Regions from separate parts of the Homo sapiens genome. Here region 1 is linked to region 2. The links come from fine-mapping of genetic effects on gene expression. A gene starts in region 2. The other region holds a variant in brackets. All regions are shown on one strand. Distances are between the middles of the regions.

Region 1 (2,500 bases), 29 kb after region 2:
CTCACTGCAGCCTTGACTTCCCAGGCTCAGTGGATCCTCCCACCTCAGCTTTCCAAGTAGCTGGGACTACAGGCACTCGTCACCATACCTAGCTAATTTTTGTATTTTTTTGTAGAGACAGGATTTGGCCGTGTTGCCCAGGCTGGTCTCGAACTCCTGGGCTCAAGGGATCTGCCCGACTTGGCCTCCCAAAAGTGCTAGGATTCCAGGTGTGAGCCACCATGCTGTGTCTGGGACTTGCTTTTAAATCCGTGATGTTGGGGCTATTGGCAAGCCATTTGGAACTTGGGACAAAATTAAGCTGTATTCATCCTACCCATCTAAGTAATCTTTTGATAATCAGATATTTAAATGTAAAAATTAAAAAATTCTAAAATGAGTAAGAGAAGATATGAATGAATATATCAGTATGGTGGGAGTTGCTCTGAACCATTTGTGGTTCAGGATGCTGCCTGATTTGCCAGAAGAAAAAAAGTAAAAATATTAGCATGGTGATAAGTTATGAAGCCAAAAAGACAAAGAAAAAGTTTTATATATTTGATTACCTGAAAATTAAGAACTTCTCATGATAAATAAAGTCAGAGGGCATGCTGGAAAAACATTCCCAATACACTGCAATAGACTTAGTTTCTTTAATGTCTAAAGAGCTCTTTGTCATTAAGTAAGAAGTCATTAAGTAAAAAGAAAACTAATAGAAAAATGAGAAAAGGAAATGGAACAGGAAGTTCCCAGAAAAGGAAATAAATAAGCGGCCGATAAACAAATGAAGAAATAGTCTGTTATTAAATGAAAGTAAATCAGACCGAGTGCGGTGGCTCATGCCTGTAATCCTAGCACTTTGGGAGGCCAAGGTGGCAGACCACTTGAGGTCAGGAGTTCGAGACCAGCCTGGCCAACATGATGAAACTCCGTCTCTACTAAAAACTACAAAAACTATCCAGGCATGGTGGCA[T/C]GCGCCTGTAATCGCAGCTACTCAGGCAGCTGAGGCATGAAAATTGCTTGAACCAGGGAGGTGTAGGTTGCAATGAGCTGAGATCAAGCCCCTGCACTCCAGCCTGGGTGACAGAACCAGACTCCATCTCGGAAAGAAAAAAAGAAGAAGAAAGAAAGTAAATCAGACCCTGAGCCTAGGGTCAGTATAAGCTATACTTTGACCCATGAGACCTGTGAGATAATAAATATGTGTGTTGGAATTGTTTTGTATTTATTTGATGAATTGAGATAGCTTCCATTATACAAAATAGAACAAAAGCTCCCCAAGTTATTTATTTTTTTTAACTAAATCAGAGCAAGGAGATGTTATACTTTATCTATAAGATTGGCAAAAGTCAATACAATGGGTAATATCCAAAGTTAGTGTATGGGAAAACAAGTATACTCCTACGTTGTTAATAGAAATTGATACAATTTCTTTGGGGGGCATTTTGACAATATCTGATGACATTTATAACGTATATTCCCTTAAACATGGCAGTTTTGTTCTAGGAATTTATCCCGTAGATATACTCAGAGTACAAATGGGTACATACTGAAAAGGCAGTCTCCCTATTTACATACCCTTTTCCCTGGGTCCTTTCCTAGGGGCAGCCTCTATTACCGTCTCTTGTCTGTTGCATGTCCCCTTTGCTCATAGTAATACTAGCACACTAGACATCAACTTAATCTGTGGTTTACTTTTTTTAAACTTAATTATTTATCTTGAAGTGTTTGTGTGTCTGCACAAAGCTTTTCCTCATTCTTTTCTAATTGATTGCACTGTATTTCATTATGTGAATGAACAGTAATTTACTTTTTATTATGGAGAATTCCAAGCATTTACAAATACAGAATAGTATAATGAACTATACTGCATATACCCATCACCCACCTTCACCTGATTTTAGTTCATGGCATTTTTTAAATCTATACTTTTCATCCCAACTTCCTGGACTGTTTTGAAGCAAATGCCAGACATCATATCATTTTATCTATTTTAGCATGTATCTCTCAAAGATAAGCCTCTTTTAGTTACTATTTAAGAATTTTATTAAATACATACAGTAAAATTAACTTTTTATGGTGTAAAATTATATGCATTTTAAAAACTTTATTTTTTATTGTGGTAAAATGTATATACCGTAAAATTTACAGTTCAGATAGTTTTTTAAGTGTTCTGTTCAGTGGCATTATTAAGTGCATTCACATTGTTGGGCAACTGTCACCACCATCTGTATCTAGAACTTACTCATTTTCTAAAACTGAAACTCCATGCCTTTTATTATTTTCTGCTTCTAGGGGTCAGAAACATGCCTATTAAACACTAATTCCCCATTTCTCCCTCCTCTTAGCCCCTGGAAACAACCATTCCGCCTTCTGTTTCTATGAATTCAATATTTCTAGATACCTCATACAAGTAGAATCATGTAATATTTGCCCTTTTGTGTCTGGCTTATTTCACTTTACATAATATCTTCAAAGTTCATCCATATTGTAGCATGTGTCAGAATTTGATTCCTTTTTA
Region 2 (3,030 bases):
TTAAAAAACCATCAAGCAGATCCCTAGGATACTTTGCAGGGAAATCTCTCACTCTTGGCCCTATCAATGCTCACTAGGCACATCCTGATCTCATTTGGACTCAATTATACAAAAAGCTTCCCAGTAGAAGATGAGCTTGTGATAGACATAGCTAAGCACTGTAAAACCAAACTGAAGGCCGGGCGCGGTGGCTCACCTGAGGTCAGGAGTTCGAGGCCAGCCTGGCCAACGTGGTGAAACCCTGTCTCTACTGAAAATACAAAAAAATTAGCCGGGCGTGATGGCGCGTGCCTGTAGTCCCAGCTACTCGGGAGGCTGAGGCAGGAGAATCGCTTGAACCCGGGAGGCGGAGGTCGCAATGAGCCGAGATTGTGCCACTGCACTCCAGGCTGGGTGACAGAGCGAGACTCCCTCTCAAAAAAACAAAAAAGGCTTTCCTGAGCTCCAGTGCATGCAGCTTTTGAAAGATGGTATTGTTATGAATCCCCTGCAGCGCAACGTGCAGGCTCGCTACTGTAGTGAATGCTACTGGTAAATCAGACCACAGTGATTTAAAACAAAAATCTGCAGGAAGTGAGACCCTGTGACTTGAAAGTCAGAGGGCCAGGGCAAGCCTTGTCAAGAAAAGAAAGCATGAGATCCTAGAATCCTCGTTTGGAAGGGACTCACCTCTCATTTCTAGGGAGGCATCACAAGGCAGTATAGTTTATGAAGACCACCTGGCCATCGACCTGAAATTAAACCAGAGGTGCAATTCACAAACCTCGATAGGCAAGGCAGGTAGAAGTTGCCAGAAGAAACAGTGACTCTCTTTAAGATGAAGCAGCCCAGAACGGCATCATCTCACTCAGGTAGTGCGTCTGAATGAGCATGCACAATTGTTTAAATGAATAAATGTTTTGCTACACTGGGTCCATTATAATTCGAGCCTACACCCCCTCCTAGATCTTGAAAACTTGAAGAACTTCTTAGCTGAAAATAACAGCTCAGCTAAACAGGCATTTATTTGCCCACAAGACCGCATCTCTGAACAGTTTCAACAAGCTAAAAAAACTGACGTCCTTTCCAAAGAAAAGGAAGTCGGCTGCCAGGGGAGAAAAGGCTTCAGCGATGCTTGGAGGAAGGGACTCTGGTTTACGCTGGCTCCCTTCCTAAACACTTCCGGAAGCAGAGCCCCTTCCCGGCCGCTGGAGAAGCCTGGGTGGGACCCCGAGTCGGCCAGTTACAGGATAGGAGGTGCCAGGCAAGGCACTGAAGCCATGCAGTGAGAACAGCGTGAGCGCCTGATCCATTGGGTCCTGCGGCTGCCAGGCCAGAGGCCCCGCGCCAGGAGCTCTTCAGGCGCCGGCTGCTGACAGTTCCAGGCGTGGAGCGCCTTCCCACGTGAAACGCGTCCCGGAAGATACGATCCTCACAACCTCTTCCCTCAAAAACAGACTCGGCAAAGTTAGCCCGGATAAACCTGCCCCGTCGCCCCAGCGCCTCGCGGACGCTCCCCTCCCACCTTCAGGAAACGCGCCTAGAAGAAAGCGAGCTTAATCCGCCGGTAAGGCGGACGTGACGTCACAAAGCGCCGGTTCCTTTCGGCTCCCGCTCCCAGAGGCGCGCAGTGCATGCCGGGCCCTGTAGTTTTTCCGGGGAGTCGGTGCCAGGGCCGAGATTCCCGCGCTTCAAGTCCCGCAGCCCTGGCTGCGTCTTAGAGAGGCGTGAAACCGGATGATGGGAGCCGCTTGTTGGCTTAGATATTCCTTCAACTAGAATGACGTATCTTGCAGCACTCGGCTGAATTTTTTTCTTTTTCTTTTTTTTTTTTGAGACGGAGTCTTGCTCTGTTGCTCAGGCTGGAGTGTAGAGGCGCGATCTCGGCTCACTGCAACCTTCGCCTCCCGGTTCAAGCGATTCTCCTGACTATGCTGTATTTCTATCTGTAACATCACTGTCCAATAGATATATAATTCGAACCATATACGTAATTTAAAAATTTCCAGTAGCCTCATTAAAAGTCAAAATAGAAACAATCATATATATTTTATTTAACCCATACATCCCAAATAGTATTATTTCAACATATAATCAAAAAATTTTTTGAGATGGAGTCTCGCTTTGTCGCCCAGGCTGGAAGCGGCGCAATTTCGGCGCACTGCAACCTCCGTCTCCTGGCTTCAAGCGATTCTCCTGCCTCAGCCTCCCAAGTAGCTGGGATTACAGGCGCCCGCCATCACACCCGGCTCATTTTTGTTATTTTTAGTAGAGACGGGGTTTCGCCATGTTACCAGGCTGGTCTCGAACTCCTGACCTCAAGTGATCCGCCCGCCTCAACCTCCCAGAGTGCTGGGATTACAGGCGTGAGTCACGATGCCCGGGGTCGGTCTGTCTGTCTCATATATATATATATATATATTTTTTTTTTTTTTTTTTTTTTTTTTGAGACGGAGTCTCGCTCTGTCACCCAGGCTGGAGTGCAGTGGCGCAATCTCTGCTCACTGCAAGCTCCGCCTCCCAGGTTCACGCCATTCTCCTGCCTCAGCCTCGCGAGTAGCTGGGACTACAGGTGCCTGCCACCACGTCAGGCTAATTTTTGTATTTTTAGTAGATACGGGGTTTCACCATGTTAGCCAGGATGGTCTCGATCTCCTGACCTCGTGATCTGCCCGCCTCGGCCTCCCAAAGTGCTGGATTACAGGCGTGAGCCACCGCACCTGGCTGCCGAGTCTCAATATTTTAAAAAATACTTATGTTCTGTTCTGTTTTTAATGCGAAGTTTAAGAAATCTGGTGTGTGTTACACTTAGAATACATCCCAATTTGGATCAGCCACATTTCAGATGCTGGATAGTCACATGTGGCTACTGGCTACTGTAGTACAGTACTACTACAGTGTAGTGGGCAGAACAGGTCTAAAAACCTTTGGATTGCCGGGAATAAGTAATATAGCTGCCTGGATACTTCAGGGGCCTTTGTCACCCAGTAACTGAATGCTCTATTACTAAAAATGAAAGAATTCATTTTTCTTTGTTACCCCTCAAAAATT

Evidence for each region. PIP is the estimated chance that this variant, and not a neighbour inherited with it, causes the effect.
Region 1: its variant is fine-mapped to the expression of ADAT1 in whole blood (INTERVAL, PIP 0.95).

What each region holds. Positions count from the first base shown.
Region 1 is chr16:75,650,607-75,653,106 of GRCh38, forward strand. All of the region lies in intron 1 of TERF2IP (TERF2 interacting protein), which reads left to right. Among named protein-coding and RNA genes, the nearest start is that of TERF2IP, 4.1 kb to the left of the region's middle. The variant T/C (reference allele first, on the strand shown) is at 953.
Region 2 is chr16:75,621,734-75,624,763 of GRCh38, forward strand. It overlaps ADAT1 (adenosine deaminase tRNA specific 1), which reads right to left and starts at 1,548. Exons shown (of 10, transcript NM_001324445.2): 1 at 670-1,548. RefSeq lists enhancers at 1-301, 302-821, 822-1,341, 1,223-1,462, 1,342-1,861.